Linked DNA regions of Homo sapiens. The protein of the gene in region 2 purifies or fractionates together with the protein of the main gene of each other region. This does not show direct contact. Each region holds a gene or a part of one and is shown on either strand. Other genes may lie near its edges. The genes, in order: KIF15, FAM9C, STX5, CEP170, STX6, MINDY3 and EXOC1.

Evidence for each region.
Region 1: the proteins of FAM9C (region 2) and KIF15 purify together in Homo sapiens (affinity purification with mass spectrometry; one large-scale study listed by BioGRID and IntAct). This does not show direct contact.
Region 3: the proteins of FAM9C (region 2) and STX5 purify together in Homo sapiens (affinity purification with mass spectrometry; one large-scale study listed by BioGRID and IntAct). This does not show direct contact.
Region 4: the proteins of FAM9C (region 2) and CEP170 purify together in Homo sapiens (affinity purification with mass spectrometry; one large-scale study listed by BioGRID and IntAct). This does not show direct contact.
Region 5: the proteins of FAM9C (region 2) and STX6 purify together in Homo sapiens (affinity purification with mass spectrometry; one large-scale study listed by BioGRID and IntAct). This does not show direct contact.
Region 6: the proteins of FAM9C (region 2) and MINDY3 purify together in Homo sapiens (affinity purification with mass spectrometry; one large-scale study listed by BioGRID and IntAct). This does not show direct contact.
Region 7: the proteins of FAM9C (region 2) and EXOC1 purify together in Homo sapiens (co-immunoprecipitation; 2 studies listed by BioGRID and IntAct, with this or other methods). This does not show direct contact.

Annotation. Positions count from the first base shown.
Region 1 is NC_000003.12:44,848,794-44,851,274, reverse strand, and holds part of KIF15 (kinesin-like protein KIF15), read right to left. Parts: intron 1-2,481. UniProt on the Homo sapiens protein: Plus-end directed kinesin-like motor enzyme involved in mitotic spindle assembly.
Region 2 is NC_000023.11:13,038,369-13,041,620, forward strand, and holds part of FAM9C (protein FAM9C), read right to left. Parts: intron 2,505-3,252; coding exon 2,390-2,504; intron 1,549-2,389; coding exon 1,440-1,548; intron 136-1,439; coding exon 73-135; 3' UTR 48-72; exon of another isoform or gene 1-47.
Region 3 is NC_000011.10:62,822,052-62,825,551, forward strand, and holds part of STX5 (syntaxin-5), read right to left. Parts: intron 3,489-3,500; coding exon 3,372-3,488; intron 3,289-3,371; coding exon 3,232-3,288; intron 3,067-3,231; coding exon 2,985-3,066; intron 2,515-2,984; coding exon 2,408-2,514; intron 2,237-2,407; coding exon 2,115-2,236; intron 1-2,114. UniProt on the Homo sapiens protein: Mediates endoplasmic reticulum to Golgi transport.
Region 4 is NC_000001.11:243,192,782-243,196,281, reverse strand, and holds part of CEP170 (centrosomal protein of 170 kDa), read left to right. Parts: intron 1-3,500.
Region 5 is NC_000001.11:180,998,871-181,002,370, forward strand, and holds part of STX6 (syntaxin-6), read right to left. Parts: intron 1-3,500. UniProt on the Homo sapiens protein: SNARE promoting movement of transport vesicles to target membranes. Targets endosomes to the trans-Golgi network, and may therefore function in retrograde trafficking.
Region 6 is NC_000010.11:15,777,674-15,780,507, forward strand, and holds the end of MINDY3 (ubiquitin carboxyl-terminal hydrolase MINDY-3), read right to left. Parts: exon of another isoform or gene 2,176-2,834; intron 1,469-2,175; coding exon 1,319-1,468; 3' UTR 501-1,318; downstream 1-500. UniProt on the Homo sapiens protein: Hydrolase that can remove 'Lys-48'-linked conjugated ubiquitin from proteins.
Region 7 is NC_000004.12:55,891,648-55,895,147, forward strand, and holds part of EXOC1 (exocyst complex component 1), read left to right. Parts: intron 1-897; coding exon of another isoform or gene 898-906; exon of another isoform or gene 907-987; coding exon 988-1,064; exon of another isoform or gene 1,065-1,065; intron 1,066-1,904; coding exon 1,905-2,133; intron 2,134-3,500.

The DNA.
Region 1 (2,481 bases), on a different chromosome or scaffold from region 2:
CCCCCTTTAGGGACAGGGTCTCACTCTGCTGCCCAGGCTAGAGTACGCTGGCACCATCATAGCTCACTGCAGCCTCCAACTCCTAGGCTCAAGCAATCTTCCTGCTCCAGCCTTTGGAGTATCTAGGACTACCAGCATGCACCACTGTGCTTGGCTAATGTTTTAAAAATTATCCGTAGAGATGGAGTCTTGCTATGTTGCCCAGGCTGGTCTCAAACTCATGGCCTCAAGCAATCCTCTTCTCCTTGGTCTCCCAAAATCCTGGGACTACAGGTGTGAACCACTGTGCCAGGCCTGCTTTTTATTTTATAATGCTCATGAAATGTAATGTTGACTGTTGAAATGATGTATTATTACACCATTCAAGGCCAGCTAATTTCTAGCTGTTGATTACTGAAATGATATAATACACAAAATTTAATACACCACTCAAAGCCAGCTAATTTCTAGCGGTTGATTGCTAAGATGATATAATACATAAAATTTAATACACAAAGGGCCAGCTAATTTCTAGGCAAGTTGTTTTTGGACTACATTCTGTGGATCTCAGAAGGACAGTCTGGGGAGAAGGGCACTGATGCTCTCCCAATTCATTGTTGGCTTTGTATTGGTTCCCCATTACTTTTAAAAGCATCTTCACAAATATATGGGTAACGTAACGTTTAAAATTGCTGTTGTAGGCTGGGATTGATAAAACAGTGCATGCCGTTTGCTGAAGTGTGCTTCACTTGCCCGCAGTGAAGTTTGGCCTGCTGTATGTTCCAGAGACAGCATATCATGAAGACTCTTGGTTACTAGACTATGAAATAAACTATACACCAAGTTAAATAGCTTTTACTCTTTTTGCTAGAAGACCTCAAATAGATATTAGTTCTAAAATAGCTGTAATTCAACCAACTAGCTGGATTCTCAAAAATCCTGTAAATAATCTGGGTTTCTGACTTAGCTTTACCACTAATTAGCTAGGAGCCGGACTCTGAATGGCTCATACACAGGTGAAAAGGCTGTTTTCCTATGTATACTCTGATTCTATGAAGCAAATGAATCAATGATTGGGTAACAAATCTTTCATAAATTGGGTGGTCTTTGTCAGCTGATCATTAAAAAGAATTTTTGATGGTAAATCACCATGTAATTTTTGACATATTTACTTGCATAAAGTTCAAATAACTGGAATACAGTACCCTATCAAAACTCCTTCATTGCCATTTACTTAACTATGTGAACAAGATTTCTCAGCATTTATATCTATAAAAGCAGAAAATACGAATAGAGTTGATGCTGAATCCTGTCTCATTTGAGAAGTACAACAGAAAAATGAGCTGACTGAAGAAAAAGCATTAGGTTAAAATACATTAAGAGATGCATTTCCACTAAAATTTTCCCTAAGTATAATAATTACTTATAAAAATTTCCAGTAAATTTAAGGCACACTGATTAATAATTGTAATGTGAACTCAATTGGTAATAAACATAACAAAGCCATATGATTAAAATAAATTTTTACAAATTACTTTCAATTTGTGTGTGTGTATGTATGTACATACATATATTTTATTGTTAAGTAGTATGATGGGGTTATCAATAAAAAAATTTTCCAGAAAATATATTAAATCAATATAAAATCCTGCAGGGTGTAGAAAGGAACTTCAATTACAAAGGAAAAAGGAAAAATGTAAAATTTTAGACTTGGAAATTTGTTCATGTATTTCTTAAACAGAAAGTAGCAAATTAGTTAAATACTTTTAAAAGAATGGCAAGAGCTTTATTTTCTTTTCTCTTTTTAAAAAAATTTATTTAAAAAAAATTTTAGAAATAGAGACAGGGTTTCACCATGTTGCCCAGACTGATCTCAAACTCCTAAACTCAAGCAATCCACCTGCCTCGGCCTCCCAAAGTGCTGGGATTACAGGCGTGAGCTACTGGGCCCAGCCAACAGCTTTATTTTCAAATGTCACTATATTGTATATCCCAGAATGTCTATTCTTTGTAACAATTTAAACTTACAATGAAAAATTTTAGATATAAAGTCAACTTCAAAAATATGCAAGAGGGTATATGATGTTTCAAAATCCTTTAAATCAGTATAATAAGCAAAAATGTTTGAAGATCTCTATCCCTAATAAGGAGTATCTACCCAGAAAAAGCCCAATAGCTCTCTAATGTTGTTTTGTTTGTGTTAATGCCAACCAGCTTACTTAGTTTGAATTTTACAGAAAATATAGTACACCTTGCTCATCAAAGAGTGAGGCCATTTATAAGGCTACATGAATTAATATGAAAACTTTATGAATAAATTAAACTCATGGCTTTAGAAAACATAAAGAGACCCAAGGGCTAGACCAGAAGAAATCAGAGTACTGATCTTTGGGTCTCAGAGGGCCTCAGGTTTTAAATCAGAGGAAACCAGAAGCAGAAGTGAAAAGGGACACCTGGTAGTTACATTGTTCTCATTGTCCATGAGGAAAAGCCCCATCGATT
Region 2 (3,252 bases):
TGTGTTGTATTTTATAAGAACGTATTGTGTTACCAAATAGAACAGACCTTTGTGAATTGCTCGTGTGGTGGCTCAATCTCTTTCAGTTCCTTTCCCATCTTGTTGCCACCTCTTTTGTTGCTCTTGAAATATTTTCTAGAGGCACAAAACAAAAAAGTGATTAAAATTGGGTAAATTTTAATACTTATAAAACATTCTGCATTAAAGAAATACTCTTTAAATCAATACTTCTGAACACTTTCTTTTAGACAACGTTTATGACCAATTTGAAACAATTGTGTTCACCACTCATGTGCTAAAACAATAACCTTTTTCATCAGTCATGGAGTAAAGAATTTTCTTTCTTATACATATTCAACACATACGTCTTAATTCTTGATTTCAAATGAAGAGTATTTGATGACCCTTCCTATAATTTGTTGACCACAGATAGGTAAGATCTATACAGAAATTAACTAAGAAACATTCTTTCTTACTAAGATTTTAAACACCTGTTAAATCTTGGTCATTTCAATATGTACATAGATAAACCTTCCATTAATGATTGCCTTTCTGCACCTTGACCTAATCTCCAACAATAGTGTTCTCCTCTCCTCTACGTGGCACTCACAGTCATCCCCTAAATTTTGTCATTCCCAGTGACTGCAGTATCTACATAATATTAATAATAGCAATGATAAACAGCAACCATGGGTCAGATCGCATCCTGAAAAATTTAAATAAACCTGTTACACAGGAACCCTTTAATCCTCCAAACAACTCTGAAATAGGTACCCTCACCATGTCTCCTTTCGTATATAAAGTAACTTTAGCACAGAGATAAATAATATGCCCATGGTTCCTGAACTAGCAATGGTCAAACTGGAATTGGATCCCAAGCAGTGGGGCTCCAGAGTCGCAGCCCTTGACCACTGCACTCATCTGTTTCTCCATCTTCCCAACATACAGCCACTACCTTCCTGCCACTGTAGGTCACTCACTTCAGTACTACAGCTCAGGAGTCTGTAGGGACCTGACGCCTATTGAATGGAGCACTTTTCACTGCCCAATGCCCCACCCCCATGTGCTCAGGTAACTCAGCCCCAGCTGAAATTCCACAGCCAGTCATCATAACCCCATCCCTGCCTCTATGCCCTGTCCAACTCTCCCTCTATCAACATGCTCGGCTACACCCCAACCCAGGAAATTCCAACCCTACAGCTGCTCTTGCACAAATATGCCAACTGAGTTCACTTTAACTTCTTCATCGCTATGATGCTGACTTCAGTTGGACCCCTAATGCTGCATGGCAATTATATTCCCCTAGTCCATGAGTCCACTAATGGGCGACCCTCTCTGGGCTCATGCTCTCTTCCTTCTTTGCTGGATTTCTGCATGAACTATTACTACCTGAGACATTGATACAATAGGTTAATCATAAAGCTAAGCCTGATACCAACAATTTGTTCTTCCTTTTCTCCATCTCCTTCCTCATCTTTCTGCTCATCTGTGATGAACTCTTCAAGGACATTCGGCAACTTCAGAGAAATTCTATAATCACGTTTCTGCCTGTAACACATAATAAGTAACAAGGTCATACGTCATAGAGGGATGAAAAATTAATCCTATTCAAACCAAAACTGACTTGACATAGTTTGTACTATAAAGTAGCAAGGGAGTAATAGCAGCTGAAATCTTCTTTTTGGGAAAAGGTGAAATGAGTTACTGTCATTCTGAAAGGATCCCTTCCTAACTGACTACTAGAGCAGCTATCTTACATTCTTTACCTGCTGAAGACAAAGGAGGGTTTACTGCACTATAAATTTCCCAGAAACAATCTTTTTCTCCAAGAGCAGTTTACTTTTCATTTCTTCTTACTAAATAACATATGCGTTCTCATAAGGAGGTGCAAGAATATCATAGCCATTCATCCCGTAAGATTTCCCGAAAGAAATACTTCACTTAACTATTTCTCCACTTTGGCACGACAATGATCTAAAAGGAATAGTGAAAACAATTTAACTAAAATAAATAACTTATTTACAACACAAGGTTATCCCTTTCTACATAATTGAATATTGTTAAGAATCTACAGACTAAACGTTGAAGACATTTATCTTATATTCACCTACCGTATTTCTAGAAATGGATAAACATTAATTTTACAGGAAGACTTTTTATCTGGAAGGCAAAAAGAGGTCATCTTCATTGGCTTCTAGGTAATATCTCTCAATTCTGTTAAATTGAGGTTATAAAACTAAAGAAACTTACCTGTTTAGGGAACAATCAAGTAAAATATGTTGTTCCCTAGAGACACCAATATGTACAGGATAGTTCTGGAAATTATTTGCACCAATGAATACAAAGAAATGATATAAATATCATTATTCAAAAAAGCCAACAATCATACCTTTTTAGTTGTGTTGTTCTCAAAACATTTTTAATTCTGTTCTTTATTTCGCTGCAAGCTTTTGCAATCTTTTCAATCCTTTTTCTCTTTGCAGCAAGATGCTCTTTAATGTCAGCTAGATAGTAAATGAATATGCATTAAATGTTCATGTTGAAAAGTAGTTTCTTTGCATATATTAAAATCAATATGGGACTTGATGGTTCAGCAATATCAGAAGGACATTTAAAATGTAAAATGCAAAGATCATTTCAAAAAGCAAGATTTACTTACTTTATGTAAAACCTTTCAGGTATTAGTATTCCAATTTCAGTTGGTATAACAGCAAATCACTTAATTGACAGATAATGAAAAAAAGCAAATAATTAAAAGTTTCTATTTTTTAAGTGTGCAGAAAGGGTTACAAACACAGACTTTAATTTCTTTTTTTTTTTTTTTGAGACAGAGTCTCGCTCTGTCACCCAGGCTGGAGTGCTGTGGCACGATCTTGGCTCACTGCAGCCTCCGCCTCCCGGGTTCACGCCATTCTCCTGCCTTAGCCTCCCGAGTAGCTGGGACTACAGGCGCCCGCCACCACGCCCGGCTAATTTTTATATTTTTAGTGGAGACGGGGTTTCACCGTGTTAGCCAGGATGGTCTTGATCTCCTGACCTCGTGATCCACCCACCTCGGCCTCCCAAAGTGCTGGGATTACAGGTGTGAGCAACCGTGCCCAGCCACAGACTTTAATTTCTACATTTATAAAATGTCCTACAATTCAAAGGACATGTTTCCGTGAAATACTGTCACAACTCATTATGTAAAGCACAAAAAAGTATCTGATTTAATAAGACCATCAAAAGGGTAGAAATAACTTAATACACAAT
Region 3 (3,500 bases), on a different chromosome or scaffold from region 2:
TGCATAAATAAATAAAGTTAAATGTATTTGGCCAGTTGTGATGGCTCACACCTGTAATCCCGGCACTTTGGGAGGCCAAGGTGGACAGGTTACTGGAGGCCAGGAGTCCAAGACCAGCCTGGCCAATGTGGCAAAACTCTGTCTCTACTAAAAATACAAAAAGTAGCCGGGCATGGCGGTGCACACCTGTGGTCCCAGGTACTCGGGAGACTGAGGCATGAGAATCACTTGAACCTAGGAGGTGGAGGTTGCAGTGAGCCAAGATCATGCCACTGCACTCCAGCCTGGGCGACACAGCAAGGCTCTGTCTCAAACACAGAAAAACTAACCCCTGCAATGGCTCCCTATGTCACTCAGAGTAAAAGCTAAAGCCTACCAATGGTCCCAAGAGGTCTCACAGTTCCCCTCTGACCACACCTTGTACAACTCTCTTCCTCATTGATCCCAGCTGCAGTAGTCTCTGCTGTCCTTTAACTCATCAAACATATTGTCACCTGCGGGCCTTTGCCAGGGTCTATGTAGCTAATTTCCTCACCTTCTCCCAAGTGTGATGCCACCTTCTTAATAGGGCCTACCTCCCTCCAAACCTGGCACTCCTGATTAGTTTATCCTGTGTTGACTATCTTTTTTTTTTTTTTTGGCATTTACGACCTTTTTTTTTTTTAACATACTATTTATTATGACTTTTTCACATCTATCTCCCTATTAGGATACACGTTCCACAAGGGCAAGGATTTTGTCTCTTTTGTCCACTGCTATATTCCCATAACTGACTGACTGAATGCTAAGCACCACAGAGGAGGAGCAGATAAAAACTCTTGTAGTAGCAGGAGGCACCAGAGGAACAGAGAGGCCAGCCCATTGTTGGGCCTCTGCCTACATCCCTCCAGTACACCCTGTACTTCTCTATCCCTGTTCATTACTTTCTAGCCACGCAGGCCTTCTTGATTCTTGCTATGGTGAGACTGTCCCATCACAAGGCTTTGCTCTAGCTGTCTCCTCGGCCTAGAACACTCTCTGTTCTTTGCCTGGTTGGATCCCTCTTGTCATTCAAGTCTCTGCTTAAATGTCATGTCTTCAGAGCAGCATTCCCTACCACACAATCTGATATACCTACTTAGTCACTTTCTTTTTTTTTTTTGAGATGGGGTCTTGCTCTGTCACTCAGACTGGAGCGCAGTGGTTCCATCATGGCTCACTGCAGCCTCAACCTCCCATGCTTAAGTCATCCTCCCGCCTCAGCCTCCCGAGTAGCTGGAACCACAGGCACACGCAACCATGTCCAGCTAATTTTTTTATTTTTGTAGAGATGGGGTTTCACCATGTTGCCCAGGCTGGTCTTGAACTCCTGAGTTCAACTGACTGTGTGGGCCTCCCAAAGTGCTGGAATTACAGGTGTAAGCCACCGTACCCATCCATTACTTTCTTAACACATCATCCTATTTTAACTCTGTATACAGCCTTTATTACTCCCTGAAATTTTGTTGGTCAATTTTTTATTTTTATTTTTTTGACACAGAATCTGGCTCTGTCACCCAGGCTGGAGTGCAGTGGCACGATCTTGGCTCACTGCAACCTCTGCCTCCCAGGCTCAAGCCATCCTCCCACCTCAGCCTCTCGAGTAGCTGGGACTACAGGCCCATGCCACCATGCCCAGCTAGTTTTTGTATTTTTTTGTAGAGACAGGGTCTTGCTTTGTTGCCCAAACTGGTCTTGAATTCCTGAACTCAAGCGATCTGCATTGCTCGGCCTCCCAAAGTGCTGCCTATGGGATTACAGGTGTGAGTCACTGTGCCAGCCTTGTCAGTTCTTTTCCACAGCTGTCCTCATCTGCCCTATCAAATTCCATACACTTACACATGCTACAAAGCAGCTCCAGACAGACTTTACTGTTCTACTTGCCACTGTATCTCCCGCACCTGGAACAGTGCCTCACATGAACAGGTGCTCAATAAAAACTTGTTGGGTGGATGGAAGCAGGTGAACTGGGTCCCATGGGTGGGCAGAATTCACTCTATCTTCCAAAAGGCATCAAGCAGTCCCTGGGGACTTTAAGATGCCAATCCACGGGGAAGAGAAAGCTCCTCTGTTTGGGGCGAGAGAGTGTATCTCACCTCTGAATGGTTTCCTCCTGTTCCTTAACCATGTGTGCCAACTGCTGAAAGATGGAGCCCAACTCAACAATTGTCGACTCAATGTTCTGCATGGTGTCTGCCCGACTCTGGATGTAGGAATCCTTCAGGAGAGGGAGAGAGCACATGAGCACCAACAGCTTCTTCAGGGTCAGACCTGCATTTTTACAACCCTCCCAGCTTGCCATTCTGCCCATGGCACACTCCAAACACTCTCTCGGGAACCACAGAGGATAATGGAGAAGCTGATTCTACCTAGTTCAGAGCCTGGGTACCTGCTCGTCAATGAGCTGCAGCTGCTGGCTGGTCCGAGAGTCCATCATGTCGATGGCGACATCCTTGGAGGCATGGGACTCTGCCCCCAGAACCACAGCACCACCGCCTGGGGGAGAAAACAGGATGTGGCACACCTTAACAGTTAAAAGCAGGTTCAAAGCCCACATGCTCTGGGTTTGAATCCCAGCTCTAGCACTTACTAGCCTTGTGACCCTGGACAGGTCATTTAACCTCTCTGAGCCTCAGTTTCCTCACCTGTAAAATGGGGGATAATAATAGTTGCTTTCTCAAAGGGTGGTTGTGAAAATTAAATGAGAGAATGTGAATAAAGTGTACGAAAAAAAATTAGAAATTATCATTATTCTGAATATAACTGAATTCACCCCAACAGTGAGAATGTGGGAGTCTAAATGTGGATCACGAATCTCAACCATCTGGTTTGGCCTCTGAGAGATAAAGCCTAGAAAATTCCTTGACCTTCCACTCTCCTACCCAACCCGTGCCTTTAGAGGATGCCATCACAACCAGAGTAAGTAACCTTACCTCCCAGGGCTCCCCGTTTTACCTGTGACTTACCCAGGTGGTTAGGGGCAAGGGGCAGGGCTGACACAGGTGCCCGGGAGAACTGCTCTCTCCGGCTCCTCTGCTGCTTCAGGTTCTGGGGTTGGGGAAAAACGCAAAGGACCTGAAGCCACTAGAAAGCAGGCATGTTAAAGAGACTCCCACCATTGGCCCCATGACCCTGTAGAACTTGTCCCTTCTTCATTTCCCTCTTGGATCTTTACTCCCATATTCCTACCCCTCCTACGCAGATTGTTCTCACCTCTGTCCTCACTTCTAAAACCGATTTGAAGTCATTGGACATAGAAGCCAGTTTCGACTAGAAGAAAAGGAGAGAGGGTCAACCAAAGAAGGCTCCACATTCTTCCTCTTTGCCTCCCTCCCTTCCTCCCCAGGTCCCACCTGCAAGGAGACCACAATGGTGTTGGAGTGGGTCTGCAGGTGCCGGCCACTCTGGCTGCCCTTGGCTCTCACGAAATCCTGGAGCTGAGCAATTTGTTTGTTGAGGCTATTGATGTCCTGGTAAAAGAG
Region 4 (3,500 bases), on a different chromosome or scaffold from region 2:
TGCCTGACTCCTGAGTCCACGCTCTTAACCATAAGAAGTTTTAATATTTCAGCCATCATTACTCTTGTAAACACAATCACTCTAAAAGGATATACTTCATAGGGTACAAAGATTTAAACAAATACTCCAAAATCAAATAGCCATAAAAATTGATCCCTCCTAGCTCAGCATAATAAAATAAATTTCAAATGTGAAGCATCCAGCAATACTTTCATCTATATGAATGTAACTGAATTCTCAGCTTGTGTACTCTTTCTGCTAGATGACCAAAAGCCGTCTCATGATCTTGGGGTTCTTTTTGAGTAATAATTCAGTGATTTATGTCTTGTGTCAAATTCCTTAAAGTGCCCTGTCAGATACAGCTGATTAGTAATAGCCTTAAGAGACTCTCACTTGCTTTCTTATGTTAGTATGAGGATATTACTGTTTCAGATTTATCATTTGCAGCTTTTTAAAATATAGGATGAGGAAAATAGTTTACTGTCTTGTAATAATTTATGAAGCCAGCAGAAATTGTAGAATCAGATTTGAAATGTATATCAAGTGTTCTTTAATGTGGTCATTTTGAAATTAAGGTATTTTTAAAAACTTAAACTTTTTTTTTAAGTTTCAAATTGTGGAATATACGTGATTAGTTTAATAATTTATCCTGTAGCATACTCTTAGTGAAAGCAAAAAGTGATTTGCTTCTTCGTTATTAATTTTTAGAGTTGCATTCCAGAAAGGATAATAGAGTGTTTGCTACCTAGTAATTTTTAACGTTCCTCTCTGTGGGTTCATATATATCCAGAAACTCCCGAAGACTTGCCATATAGCTTAAAAAGCCCTGGTTTAAGCAAATACTTACTTTAGAGCAATTTCGTTCTCCAGAAATTGTGTGACTATTTTTAATCGTATTAAGACGTAAAGTTTGTCCTCAATTTATTTACAGCTATGCTTTTCTACCTCCTAACTTGGTCTCAACAATTAATTTAGGTTATAATTAAAGGCCTTTAACTGTTGCACACATTTTGAAATGGCATGTGCAACTGGGAATCATAGATTTTTGGCTCTCTCATGTTGATTTTTAATCCAGCGAAACTAAATTTGGAAATTTTCAAGTCGTAGCTCCTTTTAAGCAAAAGGAGCTTCCCAGTCTTCTTAATTTGACATGCTTGAACAGACTAGGTTAGATGGATGTCTTAAGCAGAATGAGCTGTTATAATTATAGTCCTTGTCATCTCAAATAAGTTTAATATTTCATTGAATTTAGTACAGAAGAATGAAAAGAACATTTATTCTGGATGAAGTATAAGTATCCCTTATAACATATTGTGTTAAGGTAACACAGTCATAAAATACCTTAAGAACATAAGCAGATTATCACCAATTGCTTTTCTGATTGAGATATATGGAATTAATTATGGCATAATCAATCATTAAATAATTTTTTAAAATCTAGTAATTGAGATTAATAATATAATATTAGTCTAAACAAGTATTTACTCTATTATTTAGTTTCATTTGGTATAACAAAATGAGTTTTGAAGATAGATGAATGTTAAATTTCTAAATTCCAGAATATGTTCTGTTAGTGTTCTGAGGGAGGAAAGGTGTTTTATTTTTCTGTGTTGATTAGAAGACCCCTTATAGTTTTCTATTAGGTACTTCTCAAGTGTAGTTGGACCACACTTCATCTGTTTTTATCATCTTTAGGGAAATGAATCCTTCCACATAATGAATTTTCCAGATGATTGAACTTTACTTTTACAGTTGATAGTTTTTTTGAAGTTTAACCATTTCCTAAGTTTCTATTAAATTAATTACCCATATTACCACCTTCTTAAGCAGAGAAGTTTCAGTATAATTTAAAACTTTTTCTTATGACTCAAAATCATCAATCATCAATATCAGTATTACTATTATATATATCAATAGCAATAGCAATATTGATATAATCAATAATCAAATATATTAGTAATATAATAATACTGATACTGCCTTACAGTAATGTCCTCAGGAGACTGTAGTATATAAGACTGTTTGCCCTATATACTGAATGGTACTGGACTATCATGTTTTTGGGGCCATTTGTCTGCTCTTGTTTTTCATCTTGTCTCTACCACTTGGTGCAATTTGTCTGTCCTTAATCCTCACTTTTGTACCCTGCCCAAGGTTTGCTACATGTGATCTGAGTAAATAGTAAAAACCTCTCGGTGAAGATCTTAACTGTTAGTAATGTTTATGAATATTCAAGGATAGGCATTGTCATATCTGTCTTGGGTTTTTTAGAGTTGGGTTTTGGTATTAGCTTTTTGTCTTCCTGATTCTCAGCTGTTTTTGAAGGTGGAGGGAGAAGCATTTATTTGTGTACCTGCTTTGTTCTGGGTAACTTACATGATCTCACTTAATACTCATCTCACTAAATCTTCACAACAATCTTATGGGAAGATACTGTTTTCTCACTTTATGATGAGGAAAATGAGGACTACAGACTGATTAGGGATAAGATTTATCTGATTTCAGATCTTGTCTGGGCTTTGCATGAAACCAGGCTGCCTGGTTATGATCATCAGATCATAGTCTGCTGCCTTTCCACTCTATTGTGCTACTTGACCTGGTTAGGTACTTGATTTCTAGATGAATTAGTTATTAACTTGTATAAGTCTCAAGTTTCTAGCTTTGAGTGAATGCGAGTTTGAAGTAGTACTAACATGGGAATGGTGACCTTCAAAACAGGTGACCTTGATAAGTGCTATATCCCTGGCCAGCTTTTTTGTGTTGCTTCATAGCTGAGCCACATCAGTTTTATTTAGCTCTCTGTATAGTGGATCAGTTTTATTTGGCTCTCTGTGTAGTGGTATTAGAAACTACCATCTTGACGTTGTTCTGTCACCTGAAGGATGAGCAAAGCAAAAACAAACTATATGTATATATCTATATGGGGGGAGGGAGAGAGGACAGGTTTATGAACCAGTTGTACTGTATGGACTTGATCAAGTACAGTACATTGTGCATAGTAAAAAAAAATCAATGTCTGAAAAAATAGAAAAATAACATTAATGAACTATTAATATATGAGAAGCAGTTAATACATTTTATTCTAATGGAAATTTTAACTAACATGACTTCAGAGTAAACACTCACAAGTCCAGCTGAACATTTTATTTTTAAGAAAAAGACAAATTAACTCTTTAATCAAACATTTTTTTAAACTTAGGTCATGTCATATAAATGTATGATTATTTCTCTGATAATGTAGAGTTTTTCCAATACTTTTCTTTCATGTTCAGTGATAGGAAAGCTGAGTAGATTTTAAAAGGGATAATTTTTCACAGTGAAAATTACAATATATTCTTTCATATTATATGTTCTCTTTGCCTTGTGTTTAGATTTTTTTGACAATTTATTATTATTATATTTATTGTGGAAATGGAGCTTGTTGTCTTCCGTGCCCTATCCCACACATTTGATTATGAAAGAGAGATGTTACTATATCATTCTTCTGTAACCTAAAAGCA
Region 5 (3,500 bases), on a different chromosome or scaffold from region 2:
GTCAAGCAACAAGTCCCAATAAAATATGGTTCATCTGCCAAAGGAACAACAAATGTCCTGGTTATTTATGCTTCTGTTCCCATTTCACACTGTCTTCCAAGCTGAATGAATGAGACATCATAAACCCCAGTGCTTCCCACTCATAATTCTTACATTTCAAGGTCATCTGTGCTCACACTGGATACTTCACCCTTTTTGATTAACCAAAGCCATTTCCATCTTGACTTACAATTGACTGTAAACAATTCTTACATTGGAGCAGGTTCGGTTTTTTCATGGAGAGGGTAATAGTTCTAACTTTTAAAGTCAGAGAATGTTAGTGAGGATTATTTCATAGATAAAACTGAGATCCAGGGAGGTTGAATGACTTACCATGGTTAAGATTTATTAAGGTCACAGCTTAGCCTAGAACTCAGGTTCCCTTACCCCTTATATTCACCATTATTCTGCCATATACTGCAAAACCTCTTGATCCTAAAGTAAAACCAAAGTCACTTCTAGGATATATTTCTAAAACACAAAAATTTCACATGTGGAATCTTTGATGTATAGGTGACTCCACAAGAGTAAAAATGATTACCTCAAAAATATGAAAGCTATTTACACAAAAATGTGAGTATTTTGGTTCTTCACTAAAAACTGCCAGCAAAACTGGATTTGTACAGACTTAAAAGATGCTTGGAAAAACATACACAAAACTCTAAACAAGGAAAGCTTACTAAAGGCATAACCAATGGACATTAATCAAGAAGAAACAGGCGATTTACTTCTTCAGGTTGAAGCAAATAAAGAAAAAAAAAACCACAAAATGCATAGAGTATCACTGACTCCCCTGCCTACAAAAGAGAAAGCATAAGTAGAATACACTGTTTGAAAGATAAAGTCAATCAAAATTTTGGAGCAATATTAAATGAAAGCCCACTAGTAATAGTAACAGAAGAACTAACATAAATTTGTACAAATTCCTAATTTGAACTTCATTTCATCTCATTTTCCAAATCTGCTAACCCTCTGCTCCCTCTCTATCGAGCTCTTCCACCCAGAACCCAGAAATCTCTACATACAAACACTGTTTAGCTAAATGTGGTAATGTGGAATTATACAAGGTATATTTTATTTTTAATCGAGTTAGCACCATTGCTATTTCCTCCTCTTCTATAGGACTTTCAACTAGAATTTATTACAATCAGATCAGCAAAAGCTCAGTTAGGTACTGTTAGCCTACCACTGGTAAATACTAACAGCTTCCCCCAAAGGGGTCATAAATTTAAACAAGAATGATTTAAAACCCTAAAATATTCAGGTGGATCACATAGTTGAGTATGGTTTAGATCTCAACTCTAAAAGGACAGTAAGATTTTGAAGTACTGACTTGATTTGGAATACCTCTCATTACTCTGTTCTCACATTGCTATAAAGAACTGCCCGAGACTGGGTAATTTATAAGAGAAAGAGGTTTAATTGACTCACAGTTCAGCATGGCTGGGGAAGCCTCAGGAAACTTACAATCATGGCAGAAGGAGAAGCAAGGCAACTTCTTCACAAGGCAGCAGGGAAGAGTGACAGAGCAAAGTGGGAAGAGCCCCTTATAAAACCATCAGCTATCATGAGACTCACTCACTATCATGAGAACAGCATGTGGGAAACTGCCCCCATGATTCAATTACCTCCACCTGGTCTCTCCTTTGACACATGGGGATTATGGGGATTACAATTCAAGATGAGATTTTGGGTGGGGAAACAGCTAAATCATATCAACCTCTTTCTAAGAATGTACTTTAAAAAGCTTTTCAGATATTAGAAAATGAACTTTGGATTCTTCTTTCCATTATACCAATGAACTTAATTTTTAATATACGAACCTCTAAATTTCAATTTGCAAACTTCCTAAGTCTACCTTGCAGAAATAAATATAATGATTAAGGTTAAGGACATATGCTTCACTGCAAGGCCCCACTTAAATATTAACGTCTATAGGAGTATCCTTCAAAAAACCTACTACTACAAAAAAAAAAAAAAAAAAGCTTATACAAAATAATTGGGGATTTACTTATCTTACAAAAAATATGTCACCTAACAACAAGGCTTCCTCATCAGAACAGTATTTTGAACTGGCTAGAAATTAAGAATGTCCAATCCAAACACTCACTGTGGATGGGGCATCTGAGGTCCAGAAAGGTTTCTCCCTCATTAAAATGTGGGTTTATCTATAAACAATTTACGTATATGTATATAGAAAGGCAACTAATGAATAAAACAAGTAACAAGAATATATAAAGTTCAGTGATAATCTACCATTTGAAATAATTTCAAAAGGAAATCACATGATATAAAGACTTTGGCAAACACAAACTAAGGTTCCTGCCTAAGATGACTCTTAAAAAGCCGTATGTTAGCACTGGTATGATCCCAAGTCTTTTTATTCAAGGAAGCTGCTTTCTAGTACATATGTTAAAGACAGCTGGTTCTCTTACATCTAGTTATGCTAATCAAATGGCTTAGCCATATAGTTTCAAAATATGAAACATTTTAATGACACAAGATTGTACTTAATATTTTTTCTCAGATTCTTTAATAATGGGTATTATTCTAAATAACTTAGAACTAAAGATTTGTTCACTTGGATCAATTTTTTACACTCTGATAGATGCTTGTTTGCTCTGGATAACTCTGGAACGGCTGTCAAGTAGTTACATATGGAAATGTCAGTATCTTGGGTTGCAAGAGTTCCAGAAGCAATTCAGATGGCGGAAGAGGCCGCTATCCAAACCCACTAAGAGTCACTCTTCAACAATGCGAAGTGATTACCAATCAATCAAAAAACCAAATGGTTTCTACAATAGCAATTGTTTTGTTCGTCAAGAAATAGAGTACACTAAGAAATAAAAAGTGAGAAAGATAACTAGCTTGAAGAAACTAGAGGTATGGACAAGGGTCTAATCATTCAGGATGACACCATTTGAATGTACCCTGCCCAAAGCCAGCAGATTACTGTCTCATTTTTGCTCTCGGAAATAAGCCTGACAGGCTGGGCATGGTGGCTCACGCCAGTAATCCCAGTACTTTGAGAGGCTGAGGCAGGCAAACTACTTGAGTTCAGGAGTTCAAGACCAGCCTGAGCAACATGGTGAACCCTGTCTCTACAAAAAATTAGCCTGGTGTGGTGGTGCACGCCTGTAGTCCCAGCTATTTGGGAGGCAGAGGTTGTAGTCAGCCAAGATCATGCCACTACATTTCAGCCTGGTCAACACAGTGAGACCTTGTGTCAAAAAAAGAAAGATTAAAAACAGATTTCTTTTTCTTCAATCACGGAAATTTTTTTTTTTTTTTAAGGTACAGTGACGTGATCATAGCTCTCAGCCTCAACCTGATCCTCCCACCTCAGCCTCCCATCTTGGTCTTCCATGTAGTTGAGACAACAGGTGTGCACCACCATGCCCAGCTAATTTTTATATTTTTTTTTTGTAGAGACAGGGTTTCATCATGTTGCCCGGACTGGT
Region 6 (2,834 bases), on a different chromosome or scaffold from region 2:
ACAAAATCTCATGCCTTTCCCTATGCTTAATTATATTGTAATTGTGTGTGTGTACGAAAGAAAACAAAACCCAAACAGAAATTCACACAGGAACTATACTATTGAAGGTAATGTTCAGTTCTGAAATGTGTAAGAGGATACTACATAATTATCTGCTTTACACGTGGCTTTACACGTGGAGGAAAAAAAGTATTAATGGCTATGTGATTTTAAATTGCTGGGCCACAAACCTATCAGAATACAGCAGATCTCTCTCTCAAGTAAACGGGCTTCTGCATCTTTGCTCACTGGTCTAGAAAGCTGCCATGTGGGTTCTCATGCTTCTGGCTGGCTGAGTTAGCAGAGCTCTTAGGTTAGCATAAGGCCTGGTCTCTTATTCGAGGTCCTGTATGACTTAGCCATTTGTAGTACTCTGTGCTCTCAGGGTTATTGGGTAGAAACATTTAGAAGTACGTATTTGTTTATTTTGAGCCACCAATGTAAAAAATGCAAGGGTACAGTTAAAGAAAAAGGTGTTTATTTAGGCCATCAACTAGGATCATAATAAATAACGTAATATACTAATGTAATAACAGATCTTCTCATGCATTTATCGTGTTTATAAATATAGAAGAAAGCTGGCTTACAGGGCTGTTGGGACAAATTTGGAAAAGTGTATTTGGCAATTACACAGTAAAAGTTAACAGTGTTGACTATCAGATTCTCTTTTCTGTCAGTTTTTAGAATACATCCCCTATACATCTGTGAATAAATGGTAATGGTCTCTTAGAGTTTCTACTTTTTGTGAACATGCCAGAGTTAAGTAAATTGTCAAAGGATCCAGGTTGACAATGTGTTATTTGTCAATATTTCTAATGAAAAACAGATCTTAGAAAAATGAACTCTTCTGCATTTCATTGTAGAGGCTGATATATTACAAGCCGGAATCATTCAAACAATAAAAAAAGTGCCTCAATGAAATAAAACCCAAAAGTAGTTTATCAATAGTAACTGTGATACTTAATATACAAATGCTGTAGTATTGCGTTTGTAATTTGGTAAGTAAATGACCAAGTATCTGAATGCAAAAGTGATGAACTTTGATGAAAGCTTAATTTTGCTAGTAAATTTCACACGAAGGGGTAAAATAGGATAATCTTTAACATAAAGCTTTAGGACAAATAATTTAAACATATCATAAACACTGAAAATGTGTTTTTAATTGTTATTTACAGTTAATCAGTGATACCAGTGTTTAGCTTAATCCAGCCAATTGCCAGTCTTGACTCCTTCTTTCAACATCTGTTATTAAGATCTTCCTTATAAATACTTAGACAAATTAATTTAGTGAAGGAGAGCGATCTGTGGTCCAGAGTAACTCAATGTATGGCCATTTGGTTTGCAGACAGCGTTTAATAGGAGTGTCATCTGTCTGTAGCATGGGATCTTCAAAACCCATCACAACTGCAGTCCCTTCTACGTACATGACCTGTTGAACAAAATAAAGCCACCAAGGTCAAGCAACAGTCTTAGCAAATTCTTATGTGGAATGAAAACAATTTTTAGAGGCTAGCAAATAAGGTATTACATAGTTTCAGATGAAACTTGACATGTAATTTTATTTTGCTAGAAATGAGAAGGAATATCTGCTTACTGATTAATGTGAAAGTAAATTTGTAAACGATATTTAATTGCTAGCTGGCCAGGTGATTTTTAAAAAATTCAAGATCATGTGAATCCTAAAACACATAGATTGTTTCTAAGAAAAAAAACATTCTTCAACGGATCTATACCATCGGAAAGAAATGCTTAATTATCATATTTACATATAATTTATACAGGTCCTACTGCTTTAATACTGAGGTTCTCAGATGCTCATGCTGCCTAATGAAACGGAGAGCTATAAAAGGAATATAGCTATTATGTTCTGAGGAACATGTGTCTCCTTCTAATTTAAGTATTGAATTTCTAGAGCTGAAACCAATTTGAATGTTTGTCAACAAAACTTGCTATTATGGTATTAAATATTCCTGAAATGCAATTCATGAGTGCATTCTGTACAGCATGAAAAATCATGGAGAAAAAAATTAAAAAGGATGTCAGGACAGAAAGAAAAGTAAAAGAGACGTTGAAAGATCAAACTAACCAGATACTGTATATGCAGTGGCAGTGATCACAGAAATATATACTGGCAGGTGAATAGCAAGAAAAATTTTATTCTGATTAATTTACAATGAAACATACTTAAAAAGTATTTTGGACATATCAACAAAAACCCTAACTCATTACCAAGGGCTCACTGTGGACATTAAGGCACTCCTTGGTGGTTAATTTCTTTTTTGTACCAAGAGAAATTCTGATGCTGTATAATTTAAAAGAAACAGATACAGACGACTGTCTTCTTCCAAAGTGTATAAAATTATTTTTACACATTCACTGGCTGATACACATGAGTGTAATTATGTTCTTCCAAAATAAAAGCCATAAGCTATTTAAGGAGCCAAAAGAAACAACTTTATTATCCTTAAATGGTAGTTGCCTCTAAAACACATTAAATATAGGAATAGAATATATTACTAGATCAGATAATCTTGTGTCATGAATCTACTCATTCCTAAGAAAGTGCTAAAGATACATTGTAACGTGAAATACATTTTTTGGCATCTTTATTTTAGTTAATATATTAGTTTCTAGTGTTGATGAAATAAATTGACATTGAAACTACAACTCGGGCTTTTCAGTCCCCAAAGCAAAACTGCCTTCTCTGAAAAGTTATACACAAAGAATATAATTCAAGTTATTAAGTTAAATACAATCGGCCCTATTTTTCACAAAGAACTTCATGTACTCATGTC
Region 7 (3,500 bases), on a different chromosome or scaffold from region 2:
ATTACAAGCCTAAATATTCTCTAAATTAGTGGGGGGAGGAATGTCTGAGTTTACTTTGCAAAGAACATTATTTAAAAGGCTAGTTTAACATTTTAGTAGTCATCAAGATAAATATAATGTTTTAAAATGATGTTAGAGTGTATACACTTTGGTATACCAAATAACAATAATGATAAATAAAAGAAAATGAGGCCTCAGATTTGCCTTCCTTGTGGCTTTGTTACTAACTAGCCATGAGATCTTAAGCCAGTTATTCGATCCCCAGCTTTCCTCTTCTGTAAAGTAGATATCATAGTGCCTATTCAGCATGCCTTTCTGGTAGCATACATATAAGAGAATAAGATGAGAGAGTTTCTTGAGTATTTTGAAGAACTTAAAAACAGTGCAAATAAAGTGTTTTTTAAATTATCATCTCAAAATTGTATGCCACAGACAACCAACTTATAAAAGCAGTCATAAAATAAATGAGAAATGGATTATGATAAATGGTTTAGAGTGTTCATTGTTATGGTAGTAATGGTGGCAAATTTGTTTATTTGTTGGCCTCTGTAAGAATTTTTTATAGCATTTTTTTAATGCTGAAGTTCTATTAGAATAATTGATGAGATTTCCTTAATTTTTTAAATTCTCTTTTGAAAGTTGTGTTTGGACGTTTTCTATTTTTGTGGTGGTTGTTGTCAAGCTGCCCCCACTCCCACACCTTGCGTTCAGCTTCCTGTACCTCCCTACTTCCCCTCAGGTGCACACACAAATACAACTTCTCACCCCACAAAAGTTCTTGGATAAAACCTAAGAAGAGTATCTCATGAACATTCTTAAATAGCATACTAAATTATATAGCTAGCTTTATCATAATGCTACCTTTAAAAATATTTTTCATAATGTATTCTTTCCTAGGAATTTTAAGACTGAGCAGGCTTTTGCTATATCAATACTAGTCAAATTGTTGGTCTTTTATTATGTAAAGTGCCTGAATAATTTTTGCAGGCTGAAGCAGAGGACCTGGATGGAGGAACATTATCACGGCAACATAATTGTGGCACACCACTGCCTGTTTCATCTGAGTATGTCTTTGTTACTATCATTGTTTATTTTGGAAAAAATAAACTTTAAAATGTGGAGTGCTGCTCATTGAGGGGTCTAGATGTTTCTCAGTAGCCTGACAGCACTCACAGTACCAGCATGTGTGTCCATTGTCTTATCAAACGTTTTACTGATTTAAAATAGGGCCTATTTTATGGCTCTTCAACTCTTCCTTGCTCCAGGACTTACAGAAGATGAAGTCAGTCTGTTGTTTGCTGGTAGGGGGAAGCCTTTGAATTGTAGTGTATTTCTTAGAAATCACAAAGCACATTTCATGACCCAGCTTTACAAATTAAAACTAATTCAAATGATAAAACCCAACATCAGTAAAATATTTTTATATCAAAAACTACTATAATCATATTTAGACATTTTTATTTGTTTTTTGTTGTTGTTGTTTTCTGAGATGGAGTCTCCCTCTGCTGCCCAGGCTGGAATGCAATGGCGCCATCTCAGCTCACTGCAACTGCACTTCACCTCCCGGGTTCAAGCGATTCTCCTGACTCAGCCTCCCAAGTAGCTGGGATTACAGACATGCACCACCACGTCTGGCTAATTTTTGTACTTTTGGTAGAGACAGGGTTTTACCATGTTGGCCAAGCTGGTCTTGAACTCCTGACCTCAGGTGACCTGCACACCTTGGCCTCTCAAAGTGCTGGGATTACAGGCGTGAGCCACCACGCCTGGCTATTTAGACATTTTTAATTGAAATTTAATTATGGTATTTTTGTCCTTTTGTATATACCCAGTGGATTAAAGTTAACGGTGAATTCACCTGAAGCTTGTTATAACTTTATACTTCTTGTCTGTTTTCTGAACAGGAAAGATATGATCCGCCAAATGATGATTAAAATATTTCGCTGCATTGAGCCAGAGCTGAACAACCTAATTGCATTAGGAGACAAAATTGATAGCTTTAACTCTCTTTATATGTTAGTCAAAATGAGTCATCATGTGTGGACTGCACAAAATGTGGACCCTGCTTCTTTCCTAAGTACTACATTGGGAAATGTTTTGGTGACTGTCAAAAGGAACTTTGACAAATGCATTGTAAGTTTTCTTTTTTAAAAAAATACCTTAGCATCCTAGTCATTGCAAAATATAGGTAAATGTATTTAAAATCGAGGGATTTCCAGCTTTCTGTTGGGGAATCTGTTGTTTATGTCCCTCGAAGCAGGGCATGGCAACAATCTACATGAACAGAGTTAGTTGGGTGGCACTATGCCAGCTAGTTTCCATTCCACACTGTGAATCTTGGCAAGTTCTGGAGGAAGTGGCACAGTGGCACCAGTTGCTTAAGAGATCCACTGGAGGCCAGACGCAGTGACTCACACCTGTAATGCCAGCACTTTTTAAGGCCGAGGTGGGCAGATCACCTGAGGTCAGGAGTTCGAGACCAGCCTGGAGAACATGGCGAAACCCCATCTCTACCAAAAATACAAAAATTAGCCGGGCGTGGTAGCACATGCCTATAATTCCAACTACTCGGGAGGCTGAGGCAGGAGAATTGCTTGAACCTGTGAAGTGGAGGTTGCAGTGAGCCAAGATTGCACCAGTGCTCTCCAGCCTGGGTGACAAGAGTGAAGACTGTGTCAAAAAAAAAAAAAAAAAAATCTACCGAATCACTGACATCTCAGTTTATTAGTCAATGACCATTGATTTAATGAAACAATTGAAACAATCATTTGGGTTTATTGTTATTGTTCTTCTTTTAATACATTCTAGTAAGAAAACTAATTTGATTATTTTAATTATTTAATTTATTTTAATAGTTTAGTAGCTTTAATAATTGTATTTTATTTTAGGAATAAATTGTTATAACTGAGCAATTATCATTTTCCTCCTAATAGAAAAAAATTTGACAACTTTCTTACTATCTGTTACTTTTTTTTTTTTTTTTTTTTTTTTTGAGATGGAGTCTCGTTCTTGTTGCCCAGGCTGGAGTGCAACAGTGCAATCTCGGCTCACCGCAACCTCCGCCTCCTGGGTTCAAGTGATTCTCCTGCCTCAGCCTCCCGAGTAGCTGGGATTGCAGGCATGCGCCACCACGCCCTGCTAGTTTTGTATTTTTAGTAGAGATGGGGTTTCTCCATGTTGGTCATGCTGGTCTCAAACTCCCAACCTCAGGTGATCTGCCCACCTCAGCCTCCCAAAGTGCTGAGATTACAAGCAAGAGACACCGGCCATCTATCCATTACATTTTTTATACTTGTATGTATGAATTGGGCTAGGCCAGGTTAAAAAATGCTTCATGAACACTTCTCAAGGCATGGCACTAGAGAAGGTAATCTAGACAAAGATATAAATTCATATTTTCTCATAAGTTGCATATATATATATAAAGGACATAGGTTTGCCACTGAAGAGGAGGGTGGTTTCTTCTGCCTGTCATACTTCTGTATATCTTATTTCAATAA